Homo sapiens: one gene and its partners. The protein of the gene in region 1 interacts with the protein of each later gene in a pairwise test. Each region holds a gene or a part of one and is shown on either strand. Other genes may lie near its edges. The genes, in order: RBFOX1, FAM168A, RBPMS2 and C1orf94.

What was found.
Region 2: the proteins of RBFOX1 (region 1) and FAM168A interact in binary tests that used the Homo sapiens proteins (3 or more experiments, as listed by UniProt).
Region 3: the proteins of RBFOX1 (region 1) and RBPMS2 interact in binary tests that used the Homo sapiens proteins (3 or more experiments, as listed by UniProt).
Region 4: the proteins of RBFOX1 (region 1) and C1orf94 interact in binary tests that used the Homo sapiens proteins (3 or more experiments, as listed by UniProt).

What each region holds. Positions count from the first base shown.
Region 1 is NC_000016.10:6,020,939-6,029,550, reverse strand, and holds part of RBFOX1 (RNA binding protein fox-1 homolog 1), read right to left. Parts: intron 1-8,612. UniProt on the Homo sapiens protein: RNA-binding protein that regulates alternative splicing events by binding to 5'-UGCAUGU-3' elements. Regulates alternative splicing of tissue-specific exons and of differentially spliced exons during erythropoiesis.
Region 2 is NC_000011.10:73,412,622-73,421,233, reverse strand, and holds part of FAM168A (protein FAM168A), read left to right. Parts: intron 1-332; coding exon of another isoform or gene 333-344; intron 345-1,234; coding exon 1,235-1,360; intron 1,361-8,612.
Region 3 is NC_000015.10:64,764,849-64,773,460, forward strand, and holds part of RBPMS2 (RNA-binding protein with multiple splicing 2), read right to left. Parts: intron 1-8,612.
Region 4 is NC_000001.11:34,213,774-34,220,110, forward strand, and holds the end of C1orf94 (uncharacterized protein C1orf94), read left to right. Parts: intron 1-4,912; coding exon 4,913-4,988; 3' UTR 4,989-5,358; downstream 5,359-6,337.

The DNA of each region.
Region 1 (8,612 bases):
CCACCCGCCTCAGCCTCCCAAAGTGCTGGGATTACAGGCGTGAGCCACCACGCCCGGCCATGTTTTTCTTTCAAATGCTAGATTCAACTGTAAAAATTCTCAAACTTTAAATAGTCTATCCTCTTTCAGTGTGCATATATAATGTCAAGTTTTTAAAATTTGTGGCTAATCGGCTTTCTTATACTATTTCTCATTATAAACTGACACCAGCGAAGCACAATTCAGTAGAAATAAGTTTATAGAATGGGGTGGATGGTTCCTTGTTCTTGTTATGAACTTTTGAAGATTATTTTAGGTTTACACAGACAAAACCAATAAAGTTTCCTGAGCAAAATGAATGAAATTCACTAGGAAACAAAATATCTTTCCACAAATCACAGCACACTAACTAGGGAACCTTTTGTATCAAAGAGTCATGGGGTGAGAGGCTATTGTCTGAATACCACAAGGTAAAAAAAAATAAGAAGTGACTAGCTCGGAAGTCTGTGTGATTGCTGCTTGACTTAACTCACTCCCAGGTAGCCATCCTTGGAGACAGAATCATTTGCCTTTTAATAGACAAGTAAATGGAGGCTCAGAGAGGTGCAGTAACTGGCCCAAGCTCACACAGCCAGGAAGTGGCAGAATCTGGATCCACAAGTTAAGTGTACCTGGCTGCCATGACTTTGTCCTTTCGCACCTTGGCGCTCAGGGAATTCAGTCTTCTCAAAGCTTTTCTGACTCCAACATAGCCCCATTCAGTGCCTTATCACCTTGAAGGCAAGACACTTCTTTAACCAGCATCCTACCTGCTGTAATTCAGACTGAACAATCTCTCCAAATCAGAAATGAGAAATCTTTCTACAAAGAGCTTCATGTTCTTTTTTTTTACAGATAGGGTCTTGCTCTGTTGCCAAGGATGGAGTGCAGTGGCACAATTACAGCTCATAGCAGCCTTAAACTCCCAGAGCCAAGCAATCCTGTCCCAGCCTCCTGAGTAGCTAGGACTACAGGCATGAGCTACCACACCCAGCTAATTTTTTTTTTTTTTTTTTTTTTTTTAACAGAGACAGGGTCTCATTATGTTGCCTAGGCTGGTCTCCAACTCCTGGCTCAAGCAATCTTCCTGCCTCAGCCTCCCAAAGTGTTGGGATTGCAGGCAGGAGCCACCATGCCCGGTCATCATGTTCTTAAAGAGAGGTATCAACCATGCCCTTTATTCTCCCTCAAGGAAACTACTGCACTTTCTCTAACCTGTGAAAAGGACTATTTTCCCTCCACTGGGGAATTTCTGCATGCACACACTCCCTCCCTCCTCTTATCAGCCTTTGCAATCAACAGCAACCTGAACTGGACTCAGCTTTCTAAGGATACTGAAGAAATAGGTATGACATTTACAACGTGGTAAAAGTGAGCCATGCCATGGACATCTTCAGGAGACTCACTTGAGAACACAGGCAGTGACCCAGAATCAAGACAGGGGGCTGGTCCCAAGGGAAACAGACACCAAGCCAATACCCCTGGGATCTAGCCAGGGCTACTGTTGCTGAATCAGCCCTCTCAATCCCCTGCTCCGTCACTTTTCATAACGAGTCTAATAAATTAGTGTTTCTCTCTGCCAATCAATCAGAGCCCATGCATATGGCTGCTGTCAGCATCCTCTGCAGGCGGAACTCCACACAGGGCCTCAAGTCTGTCAACGATCTCAACCGTACATTTGCAGCTACGCTGGGTTCTTCCCCCTTCACTCTCAATTTGTCACCTCAGTTACAGTCAAGAGGAAAATATACGAAGCACATTCTGGGACCAATTTGCTGCCCAAAGGGATTGTGAAATTCTAGCAACAAAAACAAGGTTAATAATGATATCATTATTATCAATGGATAATAGTAATCGTCATGATTATCATAGTCAGCCCTATGACTCCTACTTGCACTAAACACACACTAGGTGCCAGGCACTTTGCTAAAATAATTTACCAGGCTGATTAATCCTCAGACGGACTGTACAATGTAGTGATAATCTCCATTTGTAGGGATGGACTGAGGTTCAGAGAAATTGAAGAAAGTGAAAGGTTATGGACTTAGAAAGTGATGGAGCTGGGATCTCAAGCCAGACACACTGATTCTGGAATCTCAGTGAAATACCTGCACTGCCTCCTTCCTAGTACCTTATCATGGTGCCTCTGCTATTCCCTGCATCCCAAGCATGCCCTCTCCACACACAGCAGGGGAAGAGAACTGCTTGAGTCTGCAATCTCGGTTTGCCATTTAGTCACTGGGCCTCAGTTCCTTCATCTGTCAAGTGGTATAATAAAGGGTTTGCCATGAAGAGTTAATGAAATGACACACAGGAAGCCCTAGCACAGAAGGAGCTTCCAGTGAGTGTCATAGCTATTAGGGTCCCAACCATGGTACAAAGAAGACAATTTTGAAAACCTCAAGTCCTCACCCTCATCTCTGACACTCTATATTCTAAAATTCACAGAAAAGAGACATCAACATCTTGGGGAAATGCAGAACTAGCAATGAACAAGGTGATTGCACAAGTTCATCCATTATGCTGGCAAAGATCTAATTTTGTTCTCAGAAGAAATGAAGAGGGAAGCTGATTCAGATGACGGTGATTAGATGGAGTGAGCAGTGGTTTGCACACCACATTTTGAGTGGCTATCAGAGCAGCTCCAGCTGTGACTGCATGATGCCCAAGGACTGCCTGTAACCAGGCAGGTGGTCCAACCGCTCCCTCAAAATCATACTCAGAGCGTGAGCCTAGATAAAGAGGCCAGAGATGCCCTGGGCAACCCAGGGCCTTGAGACTCCAAGGAGACAAACAACAAAACAAGAGCCAGATTGCACCAGTGCAGAAATCTAGCGAGGCTCTTACACAACGATAAAGTAATACTGCAATAAATAGAAACAAGTGCCTTGTTTTCCTTTTGTGGCTCTAATGGGCTCAGCATCACTTCTCAGAGCAACTCAAGCTATGCAGCAAGAGCTCCCTAACCACTGCACACATTGCCTCCCACCCTCCCTTGTATCTTGCAAAGGCAGCAAAAGAGGCCATGTGCACAGTGATGAGCATCAGGGGCTGTGGACTCAGACTGTCAGGTTCAAAATCTTGGAAGTGCCTCTTACCTGCTGTTGTGTCCTTGGACAAATTGCTTAACGCCTGCCTACACCCCACTCTCTATCTGCAAAATGGGGATCTGAAAAGCACTAACCTCAAAGTGTGTGAGAAGCATCAAATGGAATAATTCATTATTTCCATATGGGGCTTCTGCTGTGTGCCTTGCACCACGCTAGATGCTAAGGAGACAGTGATGTCCAAACAGGTGTATGCATGGTCCACCTGCAGTTGACCATGGAGTGGAGTAAGAGAAAAAGGATAAAACAGAGTCACTCAATAAAATATAAGATGCCCCTGGGATGGCTGTAAAAAACGAGAATCGACACAGGCAAACAGGGACAGTTTCTCTAAGCCTGGGGCTTTTGAGTTGTAACCTGAAGGATGAGCAGGAATCGAATAAGGTGAACTGCTGGGTGGGTGGGGGAGGCGATCACATGCCTGAAACACATAGCACAACACACAGCCATGAAGGTACAGTGCTTGGCTCAGCTTGTGCTACATAGGAAGAGTTCAATCCATGTACACTTATTCTGATGTTCATGTCACATATAATAGGCAATAATGCAGTTCCAGTATTGTGGATAAAGAGACAGTCAATGTGGGAGGAAAACTGAATTGTCCAGGTGTCCAAACCCTCCAACAAATTGCACCTCAACCTTCTAAGGGCAGGGTAGCCTCTGAAGATGGACAACGTCGGCTGCACTCAGAGCTCTCCATAAGCAACCCACTTTGCACTGTCAATATCTGTTATTACCCTGGCCCACACCTACCAATGGGAGAATCTGTGGCCATACTCTGAAAGGGAACCTACCCGGACAGACGATCAATAAAGGGCATCTGAGTGCAACTGTTCTCAGGGTACTCCCAGGAGACTTGTCAGTCAAGCCATCAAAAGGATGTGGTGGTGGGAGGGTGCGGCTGCTCATGCAGGCACACAAGAACACATGATGTTGCCTCTTTGAAGGGAGGCCCCAGAGAAAGAAAATCTAAGTAGGCTAATGTATACAGATGTATCCTCCCAGGGTCTTCCACCCTCACACAAAGAACATTACTGGAAAATGAGGTTCTTTTTCCCTATAAAGTAATCCCTCTTCTTGAATGAAAGATTTTAGTGTAAGCCCTACGAAGTAGGTGGTGGTGGGGAATCGAGTTTAATTTCTCAGACGTTGCAAGGCTTACCTTTTCAGATGTCACTACGTCCACAGACCAAATCTGGTCATAGAAATGAATTGAAACTTTGAAAAAATAGAGCCGGCCGGCCAGGAAGGCATGCTTGTTTATTCACTCATCTCAAAAACACCTAACAATTTTCCCATAATGTTTAAGACATAAATATATCCTGGTATCTCTCTGCATAAAATCCCCCAATGGTTTCCCATTAGAATAACAGCCAGGGTCCCTTCCCAGGCCACAAGGGCCTATAGGACCAACCTTCAACTGTATGATTTTGTCACTATTCCAGCCTCTGGATCGTTGTGCTTGTTGGTCCCCTTCTCTGAAACGCCCTCCATGCAGACAACTATCCTAGAACGGAAGTCTTTTAGGACAAGGTATCTGCATGTATTGATCACTCTGCACTTGAAGTGCTTTCAATAGTGCTTGGCACACAGTGGGTGCCTGATGAACACTCAGGAATTCATAGAAAGTAGGGGTGAATGAGGCTGGGCGTGGTGGCTCACGCCTGTAATCCTAGCACTTTGAGAGGCCGAGGAGGCGGGTGGATCACTTGAGGTCAGGCGTTTAAGACCAGTCATGGGGAAACTCCATCCCTACTAAAAATACAAACACTAGCCAGGCGTGGCAGAGCACACCTGTAATCCCAGCTACTCAGGAGGCTGAAGCATAATAATCACTTGTACCCAGGAGGTGGAGGTGGCAGTGAGATGAGATCACACCACTGTACTACAGCCTGGGATACAACGTGAGGCTCTGTTTCAAAAAAAAGAAAGCGGAGATGAGTAGAATACTCATTGGATAAATGTATGGATCCATACAGATCAGCTACTTCTTTTCATGTACTTCTCAGGTCAAATCTCTCCTCTCTGGAATGTCCCCCCAAGTCACTATCACACTATAATTTTTGGAACCCTTTTCATTATCCTTATGAAAATATATTTCAACGTCTTGCTTATGACGCGGCTTCCCCCACGACAATATAAGCTACAAGAAAGGAAAGTTCTCGTCTGCCTTATTCACCAAGCACAGGGTCTAACATGTGGTACATTCCAAATAAATATTTCTTGCATTAGCCACTCCTTCCCCTAAGACAACACACTCTTCTGTAGCAGCAGGCCACAGTCACCCATGTCTCTTTGACTAGCGAACAATGACAAACCAGTGGTAATGAGTGACAGTGCTCACAATGACTACAGATTCAAAAAATGAGGACAGTTGCCTGTGTATATAACTCCACGCGTCATTTTTCATAAAAACTCCTAGCCCTACGACCGAGTCTAACTGTGTTCACAGTTGACATCATCTGAAAGTGCTAGATCCCCTTGTTTTGAAGCTCCATCACTGATTGATTCTTTAATTAAAGTTTTAATATTTATACCTGTGCCTCGAGGCAGTATTTTAAATAATGGAGGTAGACATTGGGAAGAGCCTCGTGGCTTCTTTAAAAACGTCGCCTCGGTGTTTGAGGTCTCCGGCACGACACTGTGGGTAAATGTGAAAGCGACAGATTAAAGGATGATTTTAGGAAAGTCAGCCAGTATTAATTTGTGGATGATGCTTACTGTGTAACTCCCATGCTGGGTGGCAAAGGCAGGACGAGCTGCCCTCTGTCCTTCAGAGCAAACGTGCTAGGATTTCAATAGTCTCCTTACACGCCACTGGGAAATCGCTGCGTCTCCAAAGTATTTTCTGTGTCAAATACGATTTCCCTCTTGGAATGTGTTCATTACTCCACACATCAGCTTAAAGGATGCAAACGAAATGGTCTAATTTTTGGAAAGGTGAAATGTCAGATTCCTATACAGGGCAGACCCAATTTTCTGGATACAAAAAATATGTACTATCAGAAAGGACTTTGATAAAATATAATAGCTTGGGATGGTTCGAGCTAAAAGGACTAAGCTTAATTTTTTTCTAAAATCATCAGAGACATGAGGATGTCTAGAAGACCTGTGCTCAAACCTTACAGGAGCAGGTTCTATATATATATATATATATAGCTTCAATTATAATGAGAAGAAAAATAGGGCAGAGTGGGTCAATTCCAGGAGGAGAAACCCGCTCAGACCCATGTTTCAGCTTCATTTCTGAGTGGAAAACTCTGTAGCTTCAGGGTGATGTAAAAAACTGTACGTTCTACGGACAGCAAGATTTATTACAACATTACTGAAACTTTATACCTGTTGATTAGATCAGCAAATCCTCATTTCCCTGGCCCCTGAGACCCTGGCCACAACCTTCTACTCTCTGCTTCTATGAGTTTGACGATTTTAGATCCCCGAATCCCTCATGCAGTAAAGGTAAATAACTCCTTGACATCTCCTATACAATACTATCCTTAAAACAGTCATGTATGATATACTTAGAAATCTTTTCACAGGGTACAGCCCATGTTGTGTTCTTGCCACAACAAAACTAAAATTCTTTCTAAAAACTGGATCAAGGTATTTGTGCATTCAGTTCATTTATGGGCAAATGTGTGCCACAGATGTTTATATGTTTATACAATTAAATACTATCACAAATTGTTTAGATACTATCACAAATTGTTTTTTGTTTGTTTGTTTGTTTTGTTTTGTTTTTGAGGCAGGGTCTCATTCTGGTCACCCAGGCTGGAGTGCAGTGGCGTGATATCGGCTCACTGCAGCCTCAACCTTCTCAGGCTCAGGTGATTCTCCCACTTCAGCCTCCAGGGTAGCTGGGATTACATGTGTGCACCACCACACCCATCTAATTGTTTGTATTTTTAGTACAGACAGGGTTTTGCTAAGTTGTCCAGGCTGGTCTTGAACTCCTGGACTCAAGCAATACGCCCACCTCAGCCTCCCAGAGTGATGGGATTACAGGCATGAGCCACTGCACCTGGCCACAAAATTTTATATCTAAACATACTAATTGCAATGTGTGAATCCCAGGAGGAATGATAAAGCCACTTCTAATATTCTTCGATTCTTGTGTTTTCAAAATATTCTATGTATTAAATAAATGATGTTCTAATTAAAAAAAAAAAAACAGATTTGCTAAGGTAATACTTTCATCCCAGGGGGCCAAGGAGATCAAGTCCTTTCAGTGGGTCAGAAGAAATGTACAACTGCTGCAAAAACTTAATTTCAGGTGCTTGTCAAGACAGCAAGTCAAATGCCACCAACCTATATCTTGGCCAGTGGGTGGGCAGCTTGTCCGTGATCCTCCTTGGAACATGCAGAGAGCAGAATGGGAGAGCTTGAGGCTTCTGTTCCTTACTTAAAAGAAAACGTGTGTGTATAAGGCAAGCCACCTGCCTTTCCTGTACCACTCGGTGCTACAAGGCTCAAAAATTAGAGGAATCTACTTGAAAGAATAAAGAAACAAAACTCATAGAATTCAGGCACTTACCATGTGCCAAACTGTTCTAAATGTTTAGTGCTTTAAGTAATTTACCCCCAAACCCTCTGAGGACAGAACTACGACTGAAACTCTGATTTTACAGGTGACAACCCGAAGCTCAGAGAGGTAAAGCAACTTGCCCAAGGTCACACAGCTGGCAGATAACGGATCCAGAAGCCCTGTGCTCTTCTGAGCCATAAAGCTCCACTCTCTGGACCCCTAAGGTGTCACTTCCACTACCGCGAGGAATGATGACTTTTCTTCCTAACCCGAGGCAACCATAAGCTAACTTAAGGAAAGCCCAGGGGATTCTTCCAAACGGAGGGCCTCCCTGACGAGCTCAAAGAGGACACAGGTTTTGAGTCAGCCCCACTTTTTACCAGCACAGCCACTGCCAGCACCACCTTTACCCTTCACAGGCCCCAGGTCCTTTGCTTCTGAACATAAAAGATCTTAGCTAAAAATAAATCTGCCAGTAGCTCCAGCCGGGGCCTCTGTGGTCACTTAAAAATTGAAAGAATCCAGGCCCTCTCATCTTTTTTTTCTCTCTTTTGTAACAAAGATAAAATGATAAATGGAGGGGAGATGAACTAGGACAGGGGGCAGGGAAGGGATGGCAGGCTGGGGCATGTCCTAAACTTGGGCTGTCAAGGCCAGGCCTCTCTGCACAACGGAGTTTAAAAATAAAAATAAACAATCATTATTCTAATAAAGGAAAACCCAAGTTAGGAGACATGATGTTTCAACTCAACAAAGCTATTTCACCACACTCCCCCACTTCTTTTCAAGTTCAACTGAAAAGATCCGCCTTTGGGGTGCCAATTGCCCGGACTGCCTGACCAGGATTTCCAAGCTCTTCAGTAGCCGCACCCCAGATGTTCCAGTGCCAGCAGGTGCACCCCAGCTCTGGCCCACACAGGAGCGATGAGCTCTCCCAGCCCCCTGACCATTCCCTGGCAGCA
Region 2 (8,612 bases), on another chromosome or scaffold:
GTAGAATGTCCTTGTCCTGGTGGAATTAGAGAGTGTATAGGCATACTTTATTCTCATAACACCCTGTCTTAGCCTCTTATTTAAATGTTTTAAGTATTGCCAATGCAGCCCCACCTTCTGCTAATATACTATATAGCACCCCATATCCATGACCCCCCCCCCAAGACTTTATTTGAGTGGAAAATATGTTGCTAAAATTCTTCGTTTTACCATAAACAGTAATTTGAGTCAAGAATGTTTCCTCTCTAGTGTTTGAAATTATAATAAGGAAAATGTCTAAAAAGTTAGGCAAGTCCCACTTCAGAACTCTGTTTCTCTTCTCCTTCCCTCAGGACACCATGAAGGTAAGTTTTTTGAGTCACTCCCCATTTCTAAAACATATGAAGTATCATCCTTCAGATGTCTCGAGCTGAGCTTTGAGTCAGCCTGGGAAGTCTTTGCAGATCTTAAACTGGGCCTCATCTATATTTCCTACCTACCCCAAATTTCATATGTGCTTTCTTAATGGCCCAAAGGACCACCTCTAATTCATGAGGAAATATCCCAGGTGGGGCACCCAGTAACACCTCAGTAGGAGATATTCAGGGGTATGCAAGAAGTATGTCTGTCTGGCCTCAGCTGGGTGTACAGGAGAAGGAGTTATTAGCAAGGAGTGCCCCACTGGCTAACTAGGTTCGGTGTGGCACAGTGCCCAGTGCCTTTTAAGCTACCATGGCCACAGCTCAGTCCCTTCAGAAGAGATGGTAGTCCAGCAAGGTTCATGTAATGTGGTCATTATTTGTGGGCCTGTCTTTGAAAGCAGCTTATAAATATACCTCCAGATGATATTTCAGACAACAAAGAGTGCTCAGTTGATCTGGTGACACACAAAGGCTCCCAAGTTGTTACACATTAATGAGAAAGTGGCTGAGGAATATACCAGAGCCCTAGGCCACAGTGTCAGGTAGTAGGAGATGGTTATTCATGGGCATCTTTGTGGTTTTAGTAGTAGGTAGAAAGTCCTGACTCTTTTAGTGTAAGTTCAGATTTCCTTGATTTCAAATCATTTGGAAACATACTTCAGCACTCCTCCTAACCCACTCAACCATCTCAGAAAGGCTGACCATCCCATGTGTCTGAACAGGCCCCTTGGGTTGTATGTTTCTGTCCAGCACAAGACCCTTGCTTTGTGTCTGTGATTGGTGGTGGCCACTTCTTATTTCTGTCTAATGCCATTCTTGTGTCTTCCCTTAAGCAACTCTGCTGATGAAACAGGCCTGGCCACAGAACTCGTCTTCCTGTGGCACTGAAGGCACCTTCCACCTCCCAGTGGACACCGGGACCGAGAACCGAACTTACCAAGCATCCTCTGCGGCTTTCAGTAAATACAGCCTGTCTCATTTCCTTGTTCCCCTTGGTTGGGACTGATTTGTTTCTTAGGAAGAAAGGAAAGGGAGCTTTTTAAAATGACATTTATGAGATAAATAATGTTTTAAGAGGTTCTTTTACCCAGGCAAAAAATTACCCCTCCTTATTCAGGAAAGGTCATTCTCTTTGATCATGCACTCAGCTTTGGGGAAACACAAAGCACTGAGGGAAGGAGAAGGAAATACTCACCTGGCCAACAAGTTGATTGGGGAAGGACTGTTACTGCATTTTAGGGGGAAAGGACAGAGGGCACATTTTGAAGGTCTGTGGGTCTTTGGACAGAGAGGGCTCCCCCCTCTAGCACAGGGCTTCTTAATCTCAGCACTATTGACATCTAGGCCAAATAATTCTTTGTTGTGGGGGCGCTGTCCTGTGCATTATAGGATGTTTAACAGCATCCCTGGCCTCTACCCTACATGCCAGTAGGAAAGCCTCATTGTGACAACCAAAAATGTTTCTAAACATTGCTAAGTGTCCCTTATGGGGCAAAATTGCCCTCTGTATGAGAAACACTGCCCTAGTGCAAGCTGCACTGTGGGACCAAGGTGTGTATGAGGAGTCTTCAGGGAGGCCAGAAACCAGCTAGCCAGTCAGACTGGTCATATTCATCCTGAGGCTCAGTAGGGTAACTGATGTTGTCACCGTCACATCTAATTTTTAACACAAAGTGGTTCCACTGGGGAAATGAGGACCAATGTTTAGAAATTACTGAGTGGCAGCCGGGCGCGGTGGCTCATGCCTGTAATCCCAGCACTTTGGGAGGCCAAGGTGGGCGGATCACGAGGTCAGGAGATTGAGACCATCCTGGCTAACACGGTGAAACCCTGTCTCCACTAAAAATACAAAAAAAATTAGCCGGGCATGGTGGTGGGCGCCTGTAGTCCCAGCTACTCAGGAGGCTGAGGCAGGAGAATGGCATGAACCCGGGAGGCGGAGCTTGCAGTGAGCCAAGATCACGCCACTGCACTCCAGCCTGGGCGACAGAACAAGACTCCGTCTCAAAAAAAAAAAAAAAAATGAAATTACTGAGTGGCATTTTGACTCCATATAAGGAAGAACTTTGTGTCTTGTTGGAGCTGTTCAATAGAGGAATGACTGACTTTGGATGTGGTGAGAACTTCTCTCTTAAGTTGTGAGGGCTGGATAAGCCCTCAAAGGGATATTCCAGGCAAGGCCTGATAGTGTGTGGTTCCACAAATTATTAATCTACTAAGTAAGTAGACTAGAAGAATTCATTGTATTTTTTTCTTTTCTTTAAAACATCTGTGTTAGTCTGTTCTTGTGTTGTTATAAAGAAATACCTGAGGCTGGGTAATTCATAAAGAAAAGAGGTTTAATTGGCTTACGGTTCTGCAGGCTGCACAAGCATGGTACCAACCCCTGCTTAGCTTCTGGTGAGGGCCTCAGGAAGCTTACAGTCATGGCGGAAGGCAAAAGAGGAAGCCAGCATATCACATGGTGAGAGAGGGAGCAAGGGGCTGGGAAGGTGCCACACTCTAAATAATCAGAGCTCACTCATCAGCAAGGGGATGGTGCTAAGCCATCATGAGGGATCTACCTCTGTGATCCAGTACCTCCCAGCAGGCCCCATTTCCAACACTGGAGGTTACATTTCAGCATGACATTTGGAGGAAACAAACATCTAAACCATATCAACATCCAATGTCATTTTCTCAAGTTTTCATTGCCCCTAGATGTCAACATCAGTTTATGTTTATACAACGTAACTCACCTTTTGTAAAATATAGTCTCATAATCACCCTTTCATTTAATCTACATTACACTCAGTCTACTAAGTTATTTAGGTGGATTTTCATCCCAGTTTGAACGATGAGGCCTAGAAAGGTAATAGGTCCAACGCCACCCAGCTAGTAAGCAGCACAGCCGGAAAAAGGTATCACCCAGGTTAAGATTCAGTTACTGACTTTTCTCATGAGATTGATTTTACTCTTTAAGAGAGGTATGTCAGGCCAGGCGCGGTGGCTCACACCTGTAATCCCAGCACTTTGGGAGGCCGAGGTGGGCGGATCACAAGGTCAGAAGATCGAGACCATCCTGGCCAACATGGTGAAACCCCATCTCTACTAAAAATACAAAAAATTAGCCAGGCATGGTGGCGGGTGCCTGTAGTCCCAGCTACTCGGGAGGCTGAGGCAGGAGAATGGTGTGAACCCAGAAGACGGAGCTGGCAGTGAGCCGAGATTGCGCCATTGCACTACAGCCTGGGCAACAGAGTGAGACTCCGTCTCAAAAAAAAAAAAAAAAAAGAGAGAGAGGTATGTCAGCCATAAGGAGTTTCTCCAGATACCTCAGGTAGAATGAATGAACATACGTAAGATTATATATATATAAAAATAGGGATATACATGTTCTCTCTTACATCTAAACATCTGGATATAGACGCATATAGGCACACCTACTGTAGTGTAGCAGAAAGCAGCCTGGAGTGGAAGCTGCATTGAATTCTAGACTGGGTTCTGTGTAACCTTGGATAATTGATGTCCATGCATTGGACCTTGATTTTTCAAACTGCAAAATGAGGGAACTGAACTAAATCATCTCCAAGGTTCTTTCTTGCAATTAGACTCCTTATCTCTCAGCAAGATGATGTGTACTCAGCGTCTTCCACCCCAACAGGGACCACCTCTCTAGCTGCCCTTAGCTGGCCAACAAACCATCTCCAAAAATGGAGTACTCATTCCCTTCAGAGGCAACCCTTTCCACAGGAAGTCTGAGTAACAGAAGGCCTTGCCTTCTACTATGTTGAAATCTTCCTGAAATCCCATTAAGTGTCCAGCAGCCACATCCCACTGTTCCCTCCCAGACAGGCTATCACAGTCCCTGAAAAAGACCAAAATGTACCCACCCCCACCTTTTTTTTGAGACAAGGTCTTGCTCTGTCACTCAGGCTGGAGTCCAGTGGCACAATCACGTCACACTGCAGTCTCAAGCTCCTAGGCTCAAGCAATCCTCCCTCCGCAGCCTCCCATGTAGCTGGGACCACAGGCATGCAAAACCATGCCCAGCTAATTTTTTTAATTTTTTGTAGAGATGGGGTTTTCCCACATTGCCTAGGCTGGTCTCGAACTCCTGGGCTCAAGCTGTCTGCCCACCAGCTACCATGCCTGGCCTACCTCTGTTTCAAGCAAGTAATGTATAAACCTGTGCCATTTTTTAATGCAGTTGGGGTTGACTGGCCCTCCCATACTCAAAAAGATTCCTCCCAGCATTCAGATTTTGTGGCTTCTAGTACCACAGAAAATTCAGGGCACTTTGACAAATTCAGTTCAATTTCACTGATACTTGCTAAGCCTGTTTGTAATTAGGTCTCCTGCTGATTCATCACTGTCTCACTTGGCTACCAACAAGGAGTCTTAGGGGTCAAAGCAAGATTCAGACATAGAGCTTTATTTTGTCCAGACATATAAATCTGATGATCAATAAACCAATTAGTCTAAAAGGCATCCGTGATGCAAGGATCAAGCCTTTGAAGGTGGTAGGGCTTCTACAACTGAAAAAGATTTATGACAGTGAAAAAGGATTGCAGAAAGCGCTGAAAAGGTTTTATCTTGTTAATGTACATACTCTTTTTATTATCCCATTTGATTCTAAAATTATGGTTAGGAACCTAAGAGAAAGAATAGGACATCATAAACAAAGCCTCTTTTATAAGGCAGAGCTGGGACTTCGAGTGATCTAATTCATTTTTTCTTTCATGATATTGCCTTTAGTGAAATGGGGACAACAAAGGCCAGTATATTAAATGCCCAAGATTGGACTACAGAGACTTTAACTCAGCAAGAGCTCTGCCTAGGGCAGGGTGAGCCCTGAACTTTGGGCCTAGCTGTGTACTGATGTGCTGTACAATTTGGGGAAAATCTGTCCTTCTGGGCTCCAGGTTCTTTCTCGGAAAAGGAGGAGGTTGAATATAAACCTCTAATGTCCTTCAGGCACAACATTCCAAAGTCTTAATTCTGTGACCTTCAGACTTAGAATTCCTTTCAGGATAGCCAGGCCTCCAGTGAGTGAACTGAGTCTAAGTTCATTTGGGCAAAATCTGTGAGACTTTTTTGCAACAAGCCCAACAGCTTCTTTTACTTAGATGCATAAAGTAATAAACCCTGATTTTTGTGTCACCCAAGCTCAGGCTATAGCTCCAGGGGAATTTTCAGTGTTCCTCAAGAGTATTGACAGGACCACTAGTAAATTATGGAAAGTCCTCTGAAATGATTTCCTCATGAAAGTCTTCTGAAATACTCAGAGACCTAGAATGTCAGCACTAGAGAAGTTCTCTGATACTGTCTAGTCCAAATGAGGATATTCCCTGAGAGGAATTGACCTGACTTACTGACAGAACCTAGGATGAGGGCCCCCAGGCAGTTTCTCCAGCCTCATGAAGATCCTCCTGACAAATGGTAACCTTGAGAACCACTGTGGTTAGAGGAAGTAGCACTGAGTCTTAGATCCCCACAAACAGCTCTCTCTTTCAGCAACTACTCATTATCTCATCTGTGAAATGTTTACGTTGGTCTTAATGATCTCTGAGTCTTCTAGCTCTGCAGTTCTGCTTCTATCTCAGACTGTCTGGACAAACAAGCAAGGCCTTCTTCTGCAGCATCATCTCTTTGGCTGCCAAGGGTGTTTTGGCTACTGATTTGTATTCTGAGTATGTGTGTGTCTCATTTCATAACATGAAGAAAGGGAAACATTCTCAGACAAGGTTATTCTTAGATGTGGGAACCAAATTCTACTGCAGTCTCTTGGAGCTTTTTGATTTTCCTCAGAGGGATAGTCTCACCACTTTGTAATATGGCTGTCCTTGTGGCATACAGTGGGTAATCCAGCTTCCCCAGGGAAGAGAAAAATTCCAGAGCACATTCTCCAGGAGCATAAAGGAAAGTCATCAGCATCTTTGGCCTGTTAACTTTAAAGAATCATAAAATCATGGCATTTTAAGCCATAACATTTTAGAATCTTAGAATCCTGGAGTCTGTGTTCCAAGCTGGGACAGACCATAGTAGTCATAGATTAGCTTTAGTCTCTCAGACCAGGCTCTGCCTGCATACCCTTAGGACAGAAGCTTACTGTCCCTATAAAGTGAGAGAGAAAATAATAATAGCTGATCTTTATAAAGTGCTTCTAATATGTCAGGTACTGTTCTAAGTGCTTTTTACTTAACAGTTAATGTATTTATCACAATGAAGTAGGTACCATTACTGTTCCCATATCACACGCGAGACTGATGTATCCTATAGCTATTAAGTCTCAGAGCTGGGGGTTTGGACCCAGGCAGTCAGTCTGTCTCCAGACTGCTCATAACCATGGCTCTGTGCTACAGAGCTTTCAGAAACAGGCACCTTCTGATTCAGGGGTGTCCTACTCTCCTGCATAGAAAAGGGATGCTTTCAGCTCTGCTAGGTTTCTCTACACCTTGATATATTCCTTTAAATTAGGGGTCAGCAAACATTCCTGTAAAGGGCCAAATATTTAGGCTTTTAAAAAGGCCATATGCTCTCTGTCAGTGACTACCATTGTAGCAGGAAAGTAGCCTTAGTCAATATGTAAATGAATGGATGTGGATGTGTTACAATATAACTTTGTTTACCAAAACTAGCTTCAATTACAAAAAACATGGCTGAAATTTAATTGTTTTAAATGTTTATAGTATGAATAAAAGATTCTGTGGTAAAATTAATTTGGAAAATACAGTCTTGTACATACTCCCATCTTAGAGATTCACAGTTCACCTCCCCACCTTCTTTAAGAGACAGGGTCCTGCTCTGTCACCCAGGCTGAAGTACAGTGTTGTGATCATGGCTCACAACAGCCTTAGACTCCTGGGCTCAAGCCATCCTCATGCCTCAGCCTCCCAAGTAGCTGGGGACTACACCAGCCACCATGCCTGGCTAAGTTTTTTTCTTTTTTTAGAGATGTAGTCTGTCTGTGTTACCCAGGCTGGTGTTAAACTCCTGGTCTCAAGTGCTTCTCCTGCCTTGGCCTCCCAAAGTGCTGGGATTATAGGTGAGAGCCATCACATCCAGCCCATCCTATTGTTTTAAAAACTTCTCAGGGTCATGGAATAAAAACAAAATCTTAACTGTTTATCTCTATTTTACATATGGGACTATAGAACTCTTTTGTTTCCTTTTCTTTGGCAAAAACAACTATTAAGATCCCTTGGGATCTATAGTACGTTGTCCACATTTGGGAAATGTCTATCTCTGGTTTATCTATAAAACCCCTTTATTTTATAGATAAGTAAATTGTGTCTCCGTACACATCAGATGGTTCCTTCTAGACATCTGCAAAGCTAGTCTCCCTGTCTTCCCCCACAGTATCTGCTTCTCCTCCTATGACCACATTTCATCATTAGCTCCATAATCTAGAAACTTTGAGAAATCTGCTCTAGACTTCTCACTCAGCTCATAGTTGCACTTCCAGTTAGTTTCTACTTCTCTTTAACATGCTTCCCTCTCTTTCATATGTACTTTCCATTCTATCCTCATTGTTACTTATTTCCCAAGCATATTTGATCACAAAACTATGGAAAAAACTATGGATCTGCAGGTGAAAAAATAAATGACGTGAATCCAGGAACAGGCTGACTTTTGTGGCAGCTGTGCAGCAGCTCTCCTATCCTCCTGAGTCATCAGGGGCAGGGGGGTGCTAAGCCAAAGAGGTGTGATGTGGACTGAGAAAGATTTGTGACCATGTGGTAGTTTGCTTTTACTTGGGGTTAAGGTAGAAGAGACCCAGGATCTTTAGAACCATGGAATTTTTGTTTAGGAAGAGATCTTCATTCTTAGCCACCTGATTTTACAAAATAAGAAACTAAGGCCCAAAGACTTGACAATTGTCATGAAAAATTAGGGGGAAAGCCAGGACTGAAGACTAGATGTCTTCTCTTCCAATAAAGCACTCCCTCCACTCTGCCCCTAGTCCCTTATTATATGATAGAAACAGCACCTCGGAGCTGAAAGGGTCCTTGGTGAGCATCTTATAGGTGAAAGAGCTGAAGCCCAGAGAGGTTCAGTGAGGTCTGCTAGACTTACCCAAGATGGAACCACAGGAAAGAAGCCACCTCAGCACCTCCCCAGCAGGGCTTCAAAGCCTAGGTCCTCAGGCACTGTCCCTTCAACTTAGAAGAGTTTAGAGTCTTTAGGAGAAGTTATTAAAAAGACTTGCCTTTTCTGAGCCCAGGATCC
Region 3 (8,612 bases), on another chromosome or scaffold:
TGGAGCTGGCAATGAGCTGAGACCACGCCACTGCACTCTAGCCTGGGTGACAACAGAGTGAGACTCCGTCTCAAAAAAAAAAAAAAAAGAAGAACTGGCCAGGCACGGTGGCTCACGCCTGTAATCCCAGCACTTTGGGAGGCAGAGGCGGGCGGATCACGAGGTCAGGAGTTCGGGACCAGCCTGGCCAACATGGTGAAACCCCGTCTCTACTAAAAATACAAAAAAATTAGCTGGGCATGGTGGCGTGCGCCTGTAATCCCAGCTACTCAGGAGGCTGAGGCAGAAGAATGACATGAACCCATGAGGCGGAAGTTGCAGTGAGCCGAGATTGCGCCACTGCACTCCAGCCTAGGCGACAGAGCGAGACTCTGTCTCAAAAAAAAAAAAAAAAAAAAAAAAAGCAAAAAACAAAAATTAGCCCGGCGTGTTGGTGTGCACCTGTAGTCCCAGCTACTCGGGAGGCTGAGGCAGGAGAATCCCTTGAACCCAGGAGGTGGAGGCTGTAGTAAGATGAGATCACGCCACTGCACTCCAGCCTGGCGACAGAGCAAGACTCCGTCTCAAAAAAAAAAAAAAAATTAGCCAGGCATGGTGGCATGCACCAGTGGTCTCAGCTACTCAGGAGGCTGAAGCTGGGGGATTGCTTGAGCCCAGGAGCTCGAAGCTACAGTGAGCCGTAATCATGCCACTACACTCCAGCCTGGGCAACAAAACGAGATCCTGTGTCAGAATAAAAAAAAGGGCGGGGGGGGACCAGTCTGGGCAAAAACTGGAAGGTGCAGAGCCTTTTCATCAATAGTTCTTCAAAAATGGGCCAGGCACGGTGGCTCACACCTGTAATCCCAGCGCTCTGGGAGGCCGAGGTGGGCGGATTACGAGGTCAGGAGTTCGAGACCACCCTGGCCAACATGGCGAAACCCTATCTCTACTAAAAATACAAAAAATTAGCCAGATCGCTTCTCTGCCTTTTGGCTAAGATCAAGTGTAAAAAATTAGCTGGGCATGGTGGAAGGCACCTGTAATCCCAGCTACTCAGGAGGCTGAGGCAGGAGAATTGCTTGAACCTGGGAGGCGGAGGTTGCAGTGAGCTAAGACTGAGCCACTGCACTCCAGCCTGGCAACAGAGCGAGACTGTCTCAAAAAAAAAAAAAATGGTCTCAGCTCCTATGCCAGTATCCTCTCCTAACTCCCTGCCCCTACCTGCACTAAAAGATAGTTGAGGAGGGGGAGGTTGGTTAACCACAAAGAAGGGCGAAGTACTCCAGACTTCTGCCATGGCCTGGTCCAAGTCAGGCTCTGTCCGTCCTCCTTGGAGGTTGGAGGTGGCCTTGATAGCTTGTGACAGTCAAGAGCCTCTGCTCAGTTGGCCGTGAGTTGACTGACAGCCAAGGCAGATGCGCCTAGGCAAACGCTCCCACCACACCCAGGCCCTGCTGCACTCCAGAGGCCTCCAACGCTGATACAGCCACCAGTGCACTCTTCAGGAAGGGAGGGCCCAACAATCCTGTCACCTGTCTAGTGTTGGCACGTATCAGAAGTAACCGTACTCTCTCCATCAAAGGGTGGAATATGGGAAGAAGCAGAATACAAGGAGGCTATGCCAGTGCCTGGACAGGCAGTGGACGGGTTCTGGCATATGAAGCCTCATAGGCTGCCCACAGTTCTGACTTAATGGTGGCTTTTTTTTTTTTTTAAGATGGAGTCTCGCTCTGTATCCCAGGCTGGACTGCATGACGCAATCTCAGCTCACTGCAAGCTCTGCCTCCCGGGTTCACGCCATTCTTCTGCCTCAACCTCCCTAGTAGCTGGGACTACAGGCGCCTGCCACCACACCCGGCTAATTTTTTTTTTGTATTTTTAGTAGAGACTGGGTTTCACCGTGTTAGCCAGGATGGTCTCGATCTCCTAACCTCGTGATCCACCTGCCTCAGCCTCCCAAAGTGCTGGGATTACAGGCCTGAGCCACTGTGCCTGGCCTGTTTTTGTTTTTTGAGACCAAGTCTCATTAAGTGGCCTCCGCCTCCCAAGTTTAAGCAATTCTCCTGCCTCGGCCTCCTGAGTAGCTGGGATTACAGGTGCTCACGGCCACACCCAGCTAATTTTTGTATTTTTAGTAGAGATGGGGTTTCACCACATTGCCCAGGGTGGTCTTGAACTCCTGGGCTCAAGTGATCCACCCACTTCAGTCTCCTAAAGTGCTGGAATTACAGGCATAAGCCACCGAGTTTTTCGGTTTTTTACTTTTTTTTTCTCTCTTTTTTTTTGAGACAGGGGCTCTCACTCTATCACCCAGGCTCAAGTGCAGTGGTGGGATACTGGCTCACTGCAGCCTCGACTTCCCGGGCTCAAGCGATCCTCCTACCTCAGCCTCCTGACAGGCTGAGACTACAGGCGTGTGCCAACATGCCCAGCTAGGCAGCATCATTTCTGAAGTGTAGGGGACAGGTTCTGCCCCACTGCCTCATGGTTTGCCAGAGGCGTGTGGATCCTTCTGTGGCAGCCATGGGCGGAAGACAGAGGAAGTGACGTGACACCAGATGTCGCTGCTGCCCATAACCAATGCCAGAGCAGATCCAGAACCCAGCACTGTAGTTCAGTTCTGGGTAATCTTGGACCAGGAGCTCAGTACTCAGGGCAGGCAGGACTCACCCTGCCTCCAGCTCGCAGGATTGTCCTGAGGCCCCGAAGGATAAAAGGGTTCAGAGCATGAGAGCCAAGCAAAGGCTCAGCACCCACCAGCCATGGCTTCCTCTACTTACGGCGCTTGCCAGTCCCACCCTGGACATGGGGAGGAGGAAGCCAGCATGTCCCAGCCTTGAGTGGGATTTTTTTTTCTTTTGAGACAAGGTCTCGCTCTGTCACCCAGGCTGGAGTGCAGTGTGGCACGATCTCACTGCAACCCCTGCCTCCCAGGTTTAAGTCATTCTCCCACCTCAGCCTCCTGAGTAGCTGGGACTACAGGCATGCACCATCACACCCAGCTACTTTTTTGTTTTTGTAAGGACGGGGTTTAATCATGTTGCCCAGGCTGGTCTTGAACTCCCAGGCTCAAGTGATCCTCCTGCCTTGGCCTCCCAAAATGCAGGGGATTACAGGCATGAGCCAACATGCCTGGCTGGCCTCCTTGAGTGGGATTTAGAAACTGGTTCTCTCTGGGGCAGACTAAACAGATTGCCCGTATGTGGAAAAGGAAGGGATAACGAGACACAAAAGAATGTCCCCCAGAATATCAGCCAAATGGCTCTTTAGAGCAAGAATCGTTTCTTTAGTTAAAATGCCCAAAGCAATGGGTAGTGGAGGAGTGTGTGAAAGTAGTCACGCCCAGGTACAGGAAATAAGTAAGTGTGCCATTTGTAGAGAATTTAAAATAAAACTGCTTGGGCGTGGCAACTCACATCTGTAACCCCAGCAGTTTGGGAGGCAAGGCAGGACAATCGTTTGAGGCCACAAGTTCGAGAGCAGCCTGGGCAGCAAAGCAGACACTGTCTCTACAAAAAATTAGCCGAGGCCAGGTGCAGTGACTCAAACCTATAACCCAGCACTTTAGGAGGCCAAGACAGACGGATCACCTAAGGTCAGGAGTTCGAGACCAGCCTGCCAACATGGTGAAACCTCATCTCTACTAAAAATACAAAACTTAGCCAGGTGTGGTAGCGGGTGCCTGTAACCCCAGCTACTCGGGAGGATGAGGCTGAAGAATCACTTGAACCCAAGAGGCAGAGATTGCAGTGAGCCGAGATTGCGCCACTGCACTCTAGCCTGGGCAACAAAGCAAGACTCTGTCTCGAGGAAAAAAAAAAAAATTAGCTGGGCATGGTGCTGGTAGTCCTACCTACTAGGGAGGCTGAGGTGGGAAGATCATTTGAGCCCAGGAGATCGAGGCTGCTGTGAGCTATGATCATGCCACTGCACTCCAGCCTGGGCAACAACAGAGACCCCGTCTATAAAAAAAAAAAAAGGAATTTAAGGCCGGGCGCCGTGGCTCATGTCTGTAATCCCAGCACTTTGGGAGGCCAAGGTGGGTGGATCACCAGGTCAGGAGATTGAGAACATCCTGGCTAACACGATGAAACCCCGTCTCTACTAAAAATACAAAAAAATTAGCCGGGCATGGTGGCGGGCACCTGTAGTCCCAGCTACTTGGGAGGCTGAGGCAGGAGAATGGCGTCAACCCGGGAGGCGGAGCTTGCAGTGAGCAGAGATCGTGCCACTGCACTCCAGCCTGGGCGACAGAGCAAGACTTCGTCTCAAAAAAAAAAAAAAAAAAAAAAAAGAATTTTAAAAATATGCAAGATGTGTAAGGATATAGATTTTTTAAAAAAGAATTTAGGTCAGGTGCAGTGGCTCACATCTGCAATCCCAGCACTTTGGGAGGCCGAGGCCTCCCAACATGGAGAAACCCCATCTCTACTAAAAATACAGAATTAGCTGGGCGTGGTAGCACATGCCTATAATCCCCCTACTTGGGAGGCTGAGGCAGAAGAATTGCTTGAACCCAGGAGGTGGAGGTTGCGGTGAGCCGAGATCGCGCCATTGCACTCCAGCCTGGGCAACAAGAGCGAAACTCCGTCTCAAAAAAAAAAAAAAAAAGAATTTAAAAAATAAAATCCATCCTGGCTAACACGGTGAAACCCCATCTCTACTAAAAAATACAAAAAATTAGCCGGGCGTAGCAGCGGGCGCCTGTAGTCCCAGCTACTCTGGAGGCTGAGGCAGGAGAATGGCGTGAACCCAGGAGGCAGAGCTTGCAGTGAGCTGAGATCGCGCCACTGCACTTCAGCCTGGGCGACAGAGCGAGACTCCATCTCAAAAATAAATAAATAAATAAAAATAAAATAAAACTGGCTTGGTTTGTTTATTATCTTCGTGCAATGGCAACTCTAAATCATATCTGTGATAAAAGGCCCCTCCTGGCAGGGGCTGACAGCTCCCATCACCCATCTTGGGATGCCACCAGCCCAAAGGAAACTAGTCCGGAGTCAGCCTCTGGGCTTCTGGTTGGCATCACCCAAAACTCAGCCATTAGAAACTTTAATTGCAGATACCCGGCTGGGCGCGGTGGCTCACGCCTGTAATCCCAGCACTTTGGGAGGCCGAGGCAGGAGGATCAGGAGGTCAAGAGTTCGAGACCAGCCTGACCAACACAGTGAAACCCCGTCTCTGCTAAAAATATAAAAATTAGCTGGCCGTAGTGGTGCGCGCCTGTAATCCCAGCTACTTGGGAGGCTGAGGCAGGATAATCGCTTGAACCTGGGAGGCAGAGGTTGCAGTGAGCCAAGATCATACCACTGCATTCCAGCCTGGGTGACATGGCGAGACTCCGTCTCAAAAAAAAGAAAAAAAAAAGAAAATTGCAGATACCTTTCTCCCCCTGCCTTCCAGTCTCACCAAAAACCCTAATATAAAACACAATAGCAGTATACTGTGTGGTTAAGAGCAAACTCTGGGTTCAAATCCCAACCTCCCCACTTAATAGCTACATGAAAGTTATTTAACCTCTCTGTGCCTCACTTTCCTCATTTATGAAATGGTGATAATAATGTAAGTACTTCATAATGCTCTTACAAAGATTAAGAGTTAAAATGGTGCAGAACATATAACAATGCCTGGCATAAATACAACATACAGGTTCATTATTATTAGTACAGCCTCTCCCTTAGATTACTTAGGCAGAGGGGACACATCCACAATAACTCCCAGTGAGGAGGGGAACCTGACCTCCTACTGCTATATGCCTGGCAGGGCTTCTAGGTGAGTGCCCAGAAACAGAGAAGCCTCCATTCCCTCATATTCAAAAAAAGCCTGCAGACCAAGATGTCCCAGATGCTTTCAAATGCTATTGATGTTAAAGAAAAGGGAGGTGCCCAAATAGCACACTGGATCCAGGAATTACCTCGCACTCATCTAGAGTGCCTTATCCCCCACCTCCCACACCCCCCTCCCCGTTCCATCCACACAAGTCTAAGCACCTGTTCACCCACATCTCAGGGAGGGCTGACCTCAAGCCACCCAGTGGTCCCAGGGCTCTGGCTGCTTCCTGACACCCCTCTGAGGACACATGATGGGCTCTAGGATACCAGGCCTGCAAGCAGCAGCCCTGTCCCAGCCACACTGGGATGAGGTGGAAGGGCAGGGAAGGGCAAAGCCCCTCAGGTCAAACTGTAGCCCCCTTAGCTGCCATTAACCCCTGCCTTTCTATAGCTTACCATTAAGCTGGCAAAAACTTTTTTAACTCTTAAGAAACTTATATCCTCCCTCAACCCAATAGTATAAATACCACTCTCCCCCTTCCAGGGGTGCCCCCCAGTTAAAAATTACTTTAACAATCTCCAAACTCTTCAAGTTGTATACACTAAATATACACCTTTATATATGCCAATCATACCTCAAAAAAGTGGTTTTTAAAAATTACTATAACTTAGTATCACCTCGTACCGTTTAGTTGTCCCTCGATATCTGAGGCGGATTGGTTCCAGGGTTCCCCCTTGGATATCAACATCTCCAGATGTTCAAGTCTCTTATATAAAATTTGTATATAACCTATGCACAGGCCGGGCACGGTGGCTCACGTCTGTAATCTCAGCACTTTGGGAGGCCGAGCTGGATGGACCACTTGAGGTCAGGAGTTCAAGACCAGCCTGGCCAACATGGTGAAACCCCGTCTCTACTAAAAATACAAAAATTAGCCAGGCATGGTGGCGTGCACCTGCAATCCTGGAGGCTGAGGCAGGAGAATCACTTGAACCTGGGAGGAGGTTGCAGTGAGCCGAGATTGCGCCACTGCACCCCAATCTGGGCAACAGAGACTGTCTCAAAAACAAAACAAGGCTGGGCGCCGTGGCTCAGGCCTGTAATCCCAGCACTTTGGGAGACTGAGGTGGGCAGGTCACCTGAGGACAGGAGTTCAAGACCAGCCTGGCCAACATGGTGAAATCCTGTCTCTACTAAAAAACAAAAATTAGCCAGGTATGGTGGCGGGCACCTGTAATCCCAGCTACTCAGGAGGCTGAGGCAGGAGAATTGCTTGAACCTGGGAGGCAGAGGTTGCAGTGAGCTGAGATTGTGCCACTGCACTCCAGCCTGGGTGACAAGAGTGAAACTCCCCTTCAAACAAATAAAAAAATAACCTATGCACATTTTCTGGATACTTTAACTCATCTCTAGATTATTCACAATACCTAATACAATGTGAATGCTATGTAAATAGTTGTTATATTTATTTGTATTATTTTTTATTATTGTATTTTTTATCTACAACTGGATTCATGGATAGGGAACCCATAGAAATGGAAGGCCAACAGCAACTGTATTATGAAAGCAAGGTCTCCACTTTCAAAATAGAAATCACATTTACCCCTCTTCAGAGACATGGTAATTACCCAGTTATCCCTTGAGAATCACTAAGACAGGACATTTAGGTCTGAAGTTTGGCAGCACTGATACAGCCTGCCCCGGACAGGTTCATGTACTGTATTACCTCATGTCGTCCCCAGCTCCAGTCAAGACTTACCTGCAGGACAGCACAACCTCTAGATTGGGAGGGACATTCAGCTCCTCCCCTTAATTCCTTACTGCCCTCCTTAGCTTTCAAAGGGTATCAAAGCTTCGAACACATCTTCCCAAGTGGCAGAAAAATGCCAATTTTCCCGTAATACCACAGTCATTACTGCCCTAATTCCAAACTCTCATTATGGCTGCACTGCCTGATATTGCTGCAATATAGCAAACTCCAGGTAGTTACCCAAACAAGCCATGTGGTTACACAAACCTACCTCCTCACTTATACATGCGACTCCCTCCTCTTGGAATGCCTTTTCCACCCCCACAGGTCTAACCTTGCTCCTCCTACTCACCCACATCTCAGGGAAGGCTGACCTCTAATCTCTCAGGAGCACCATGGTACCATGTGCTCATATGCCTTTATTTTATCTATCATTGCATTTCACCTACCACCACTTCCTGGCAAGTCCTTCCGACCTCCTAGGCTGAGAATTTTCACTTGTATCCTTAACCCCTGGGTCCAGAAAGAAAACTTAATGCGTATGACATGGATAAAGCCTATAGGTAAGGTAGTCAAGCAGGCAGAGTCAAGGCTATCCAAAGCAGTTCAGGACAAGCAACCTCACTGATAACTCCCAGAACCATGAAAAATACACTCCCTTCGCCAGTGACCCAGCGCCTTTAGGAATTGAGGTCTTACGGCGTGCAGCAGCATTCCTTGGTTTCCTGGGCTTGCTCTCGCTAGTCTCCAAGAGTTGACTGGGAAGAAGCCACCTGTGTCAGCCATGGGAGTAAACCACTGCTAACGCTGATTCTCCAGATGGTTGCTCTTAGGGGCTGCAGAACTGACTGCTTAGGGAGCATCTAAACTACAGGGAGGATTCCAGTTCCAGCCTACACCACCAATCCAAGATGGAGCCACCAGCACAGGGGCTCATGGCCCACTATTCAGAAGACTAGGCCAGGGCTTGGGGAATAACCCTTTCCCTTACCAGACCAGACAGACACTGGGCTCCAGGAGACCCTCAGAACCCTTTGTTCTGGACCTCTGCTAAACGCGAGCCCACCATGCCCTTTTCCAAGTGCGCGGATTTGGAACCACCATAGGG
Region 4 (6,337 bases), on another chromosome or scaffold:
CAGGTCATCTGCCTGCCTCAGCCTCCCAAAGTGCTGGGATTACAGCCATGAGCCACCGTGCCCAGCATCCACATCCTTTTAAAAAAAATATTCCTTCCTTCCTTCCTTCCTTCTTTCCTCCCTCCCTCCCTCTTTTCCTCTCTCCCTCCCTTTCTCTTCCTTTCTCTTGTAGAGTATATCATGGTGTGTTCTACCTAACACACCCAGGGAAACGCTGTGTTGACACATGTAGTTAATTTGAATTTAGCCTGCAGGGGACCTATAGATGAATAGGACATGCTTCTTCCCTTCAGAGAACTGAGAGCAGATGAAATGTGGGCACAACAATGTTAGTGCCCTGGCAAAGTGAAAACCATCAAAGTGGCCCGAGGACAAAGGCAGAATCCCTGCAGCGGGGGAGGTTCCAGTGAGCAGCACTGGGAGGAGGGCATTCCAGGCAGGAGGAGCAAGGCCCTCAGATGGGAAAGCAAGTGGCAAGCTGGAGGCCTGGGGAATAAAGGAGTCTGGCTGAAGAATTAGATTTGTCTCTGAAAAAGGTGGAAAATAGGATTGGAAAAGGGAGGTTGAGACTAGATTATGAAAGGCTTTGGACTGCTAGGCCTGGGGATCCAGGGAAGATTTATGCACATCAGAGTGAATTGATGGGCTGGAAGTAAGAGAAAGAGGAAGCAGGATAGGGTGGGGTCTAGAGGTGGCTCTAGGGGCCTATGGGACAGATTATCATCCCCTGGAGGTGAGAATAGAGACCCAGACAAGCCCCCTGCAGGTTGGCCAACTTCCCACATTCTGTGCTGTGACTCTGGGCTCTGGGAAGATAGACTTGCTGTAGGAGATAGCCCTGGCTGTGTCTGGGAGGGAGGGTGGTCTCAATGTCTCCTCAGTCAGCTTTCGGGAACCACCGACTGGGAGCTGTGAGACCAGAAGGTTGAGACTTGGTCTCCACATGTCTGCAGAGGTCGGAGGAGTGGGTAGGCAGCCCGAGGAAGGAGCAGCCTGAGAAGTGAGAGACAGCCTGGGGAAAGCCAGAGACAGTGGAGGCAAAGAGGAGGGTGAGGAGAAGGAGCAGGGTGGATTGGCGTTCTGAGAGGCTGGGGAGACCAGGACCATGAGGTCGGAAAAATAATGTAAGGGATGCAAGCCTGAGTACCCAGAGGGGATGATCTGTTCATTCAAAAAATATTGATCCAGCACCTTGTATGTGCCTGGCACTGTTGTAGACACCAGGGATAATGAAGTGAACGAAAAAAAGGTTTTCCTTCTCCTAAGGAGCTTTCATTCTAGAAGGAGAAATGGACAATAAGGAGATAAACAGGCAAGCATGCAAGGCCAGGTCCTCAGGATATGGGTTGGGGTGGGGAGAAGAATCAAGGGCAGCCTCTTGAGCCAAGATCTAAATGAGATGAGAGAATGAACCACACATACATTTCGGGGATGAGCCTCTGGGCAGAAATAATAGAAAGTGCAAGGGCTCTGAGGTGGGAACCTGTGGCTGCAGCACAAACAGTGAGGGAGGGAGTGCATGGAATTAAAATAAGAGGTAGCCAGGGCCAGACTAGACAGGGCCTGGTAGGCATGGCTAGAAGTCTTGTTTCAGGAGCAGTGGAAAACCATGTAGGCTTTTAAATTGATGAGGACATGTTCTAATCTTCTATATAAAACAGATCACATTGGTCAATGTCTGAAGAATGGACTATGAGGGTAAGAGCTGAGGCAGGGGAGTAGGCTAGAGCTTTATAGTTGAGCAAGAGGCATTGGTGGGATGGATAAAGGCAGTGACCCTGGGAAAGGGGGCAGGTGAAAAGATCTGTGATGTGTTATTTTCTTGGTAGAATTGGTGGGACGTGATGATGGTTGAATGTGTGATGAGGGAAAGGGAAAAGTCAAACAAATTCCTTGGTTTTTGACTTGTGCAACTGGAGCAGCAGCAATGCCAAAACACTAAGGTCATTGGGCCAGGCACAGTGGCTCACGCCTGTAATCCCAGCACTTTCGGAGACCGAGGTGGGTGGATCACTTGAGGTCAGGAGTTCGAGACCAGCCTGGCCAAGATGGTAAAACCCCATCTCTACTAAAAATACACAAATTAGCTGGGCATAATCGTGGGTGCCTATAATCCCAGCTACTCGGGAGGCTGAGGCAGGAGAATTGCTTGAACCAGGGAGGCGGAGGTTGCAGTGAGCCGAGATCATGCCATTGTATTCCAGCCTGGGTGACAGAGCACAACTCCATCTCAAAAACAAAACAAAATAAAACAAACAAACAAACAAAAAACAAAAAATGACCAAGGTCATGATGACCACAGCAAGGATCTGTTTACCAAGAGTCAGTCTTAGACATGTGAAAATTGAGAAAGTCATTAGACAGATGGGTGGAGCTATGGATAGGTAGGTGCATATAGGAGTCTGGAACTCAGGGGAGAGGTTGGGGCTGGTAATACGTTTGGGAGCCATTCTCATATACATGATATTTCAAGGCAAGGGATGGGATGGGATGAGATGGCCCAAAATACACAAGTATAGAGAAGAGAAGAGATCCAAGGGCTGAGCCTTGAGACTTCCAGCATGTAGAGGCTGCGGAGATGTGGAGGAACCAGCAAAGATTCTGTGAATAAGTAGGACTATCTAGTGAGGTGGGGAAAAAAATGGGAAAGTGGAGTGCAGGAAGCCAAGTGAAGAAAGTGTTTCCTGAACAAAGTGCTGGTGTTGGGGTGGTGACGCGAGGTGCTGATGGAACAAGATCAAGGTGAGGCTGCACCTGGCTGGGGAGTATGCATGGGCCTAAGCAGAGAGTTCAGCATGGAAGACAAGGAAGGTCAGCAGAAAAGGTGGAATCAAGAGACAAAACTGTGTGAAGGGGAGAGGAAGGAGTGAGAGGCTTCCATGTCCTCAGGGAAGGAGAAGTAGAGCCCTCCCCTCTGCCAAGTCAATTTGCACACATTCATCATGGTGGAATAACCATACAATTTATCTTCCAAGCAATAATAAATTTGAGAGTTAAAAGGAGTACAGATAATAATTATATCAGGCCAGACACGGTGGCTCACAACTGTATTCCCAGCACTTTGGGAGGCCAAGGCAGGTGGATCACCTGAGGTCAGGAGTTTGAGACCAGCCTGGCCAACACAGTGAAACCCCATCTCTACCAAAAATACAAAAAATTAGCCAGGTGTGATGGTGCACACATGTAGTCCCAACTACTGGGGAGAATGAGGCACAGGAATCGCTTGGACCTGGGAAGCAGAGATTGCGGTGAGTCAAGATCATGCCACTGCACTCCAGCCTGGGTGACAGAGTAAGACTCTGTTTCAAATAAATGAAACTATAAAATAATTATACCAGAAATACCAACATAGAGGCCGGCCCAGGCAAACCAGGACATATGTTCGTCCTACTCAACAGGCAACTCAAGCTCCTCCTCCTCCAGGAAGCATTACTTGTTAACTCTCGTCCACACAGATTGCTCCTCTTCCTGGCCCTCTAGCGTACATACTGTCTAGATCATGCCGGTGGCCGTTGATCTGATCAGAAGTTCTCAACCTGGAGGACCTAGCTGCATGTGTGCCAATCAGATATGAGCTGTGTCATGATCATTGTTGATTACTGATAATTGTTAAATACTGAAGTATGGGTTACAGCCTTTATTTTGTAAGTCAGAGTGGAAGGCAGGGTATCCCTATAATAACATCATTATGATTTCTGAATGATCCCAATATGATTTCTGAAAGAGAGAAACAGAGGTGGGGTTACCGCTGGCATGGATTGCTTATGAGGGACCCACATTGTGTCAGGCCCTGGGCACATGATATGAAATAGGTAAAGTCTCTGCTCTCTTGGCACTTATTTTAGTGAGAAGCTAGTGAGACAACCCAGCCCAACTTGCCCATGGAGACTCAGTGAGCAAGAGACAGAGTTAGCTGCTGAGGCACTACAAATGAATGCCGTGGTCTATTTCCATTGCTTCTTCCCTCCTCTGCTCCCGCTTTTTGTTTCATCAATTCATAGAAGGGTACCATGAATGTGAATCTCTTCTATAATATGCATCTGCCCAGCTGAAAAGTGATTGAGAATCCCAGGATTAGATTAAATCTAGCCATTTGCTCTATTGTAATTTGTATTGAGTTCTGTTCCCATTCATTCAAAGTATCTGAGCAGATGGGTGAAGAAATTACAGTAGGATTCCAGCAGTGTGAGTAAATGATTCCATCTGGAGAGGTCAGGGAAGTCTTCACAGAGGAGATGGCTTTTGAACTCTATTTTGAAGTATGGATAGGAGTGTGCCAGGGAGAAAAGGAGAGGCGTGTGCATTTCTGCTCTTAGACGGTGAGGCTCACGTCTTAACCCTTCCTTCCCTGAGGGTCTAGCAAAGCCCTAGGCACTCAGTGATGTCTCAATGCTTATTTCTGAGTCAGGGATGGAGTGAAGGGCCTGATTTAGCTTAGTGCTGGAAGGGGAGGAGGGACTCTGGGATTGTCCAGCCCCAAAGACCTTATGCTGGACTTGCCTCTAAGTTCTCTGATGTTGTAGATTTTCCTGAGGGACATGTCTGGTCCTCTAAGGCAGGTAGAGTGGTCACAGGAATACAGGTAAGATGCTTAGGTCCAGAGAGGGTCCCTGTTCTATGGGTCTTGGGCAGGGAGAGAGTGTAGGCTCCATTGAAACAATCTTTACAGGCTCCCAGGGACTTCCTGATCCAAGTAAGCATAAGGAGAAGCGCTTGATTGTCCTCTAATTGTATTATTTTAATATTTTACTTTCCCAGGGCCAAAGCCTTTCTTATGCCAAAGCCTTTACCCTCCAAGCCTGTCATGGTCTTCACTGTTTCTGACAACCATAAAATTAATATATATATTTTTCTAATTCTCTCCGATAACATTAGGAATCTCATCATGGCATCCACCCTCCCTCTCTTCCAGGTTCGGCTCGACATCCGGAGGGCCCTTGATGCACAGCCCCTATTTTTCTTCCAGTGGGAATGGCATAAACTTTTAGATCTCCTCTTCTCCCTTCTCCTCCCTTAGCCCTTGGATCAGGACTAGGGGCTCTGATTTTTGGATTCTGCAAAAGCTTGGTATGAAGTTTGGAAAAGCAAGGTTCTGACCAGGTCACAGACAAAACAGCAAGACCAGATTCATCTATTGGCCAACACTGACACAAAAATAGCCCTCCTCACACATGGCACAAGCTACACACACACACACACACATGACCCTCATATTCATACTTGCTTGCTCAACCACTTATGCATCTATATTTAGCTAACATGAGTGATTTTTGTTTTTGTTTTTGTTGGTAAAATAGAAGTAAGACACTTAATTTTAGAAAGTTTGTATTTTATGATAAAAGTATGAGCTACTTGAAATGGAGTGTGCCTGTTTATTTTTGTGGTGTTCTGTGTAATCTTTACCTCTCATTTTCCCCACGAGACTCAGCGTTTACTCAGGGCATGAAAGGAGACCACAGGCTGGAGTCCTCAGAGTGCTGCTATCTAAATATTGGACCTCAGGGATCATAAGTGAGAGGGCTTATCTCTTTTCCCCTGTGATCCACTCACCTCTCAACATCCCAGTGTATGCATCTCAGGAAGGGACATCATAAACGGAATGCACTCTGTCCTATCCCGAGTGGAAGTTTTCCATAAAAAGTCTCTTTTGGACAAACGATTGGGAAATGTAGCCTGGAAAACAATTTCAAAATTGATGCTAAATGTGGCAGACTATATCCAATGATTGTACATCAGTACCAAGATAGAGGTCAATGTCAAAACTGCACCTAATGGTGGCATCCTTAGACCTGTCTTGTTCAACTCTTACCAATGACTCGAATAAGGACATTGAGAGCAACTTGATCACATTGATGGAGGACATGAGTCTGGGAAGAGGAGACAGCCTGGATTTGTGACAGCACACATTCTTTAACTCTTCTGTTGCACCCCCTTGGCAGACATCGCTAATCAGCTCTGTCATTCTATCCCCATGAGTTTGGAGAAAGCCACAGAGTCATTCTTCCTGTGGTGCCCCAGGCAGCTGTCACTGATCAGAGTTGGTCTATGAAATGAAACCCATGTGGCATGCTCTCACAGTGTAACCCCATCGGCCTCACTGGTCTTTCTTTCTGGGTCCCTGGAAACCAATTTCTCTCCCAAGTTCCCTCAAGACTTATGCCTTCTTACATTCTTCATGGCCTAAGTCTAGGATTCCCTGGAAGTCCTTCAACTCCCTTCCCCAATGCTGGACCCTACTTTGGGCATTTCTTGTTTCTTCTTGATAGCCTTGGTTAACAGTCTGTCCCAAAGGTCTTTCTTATATTGTACTTCTAGGTATTGATCCAGGCTAGACTAT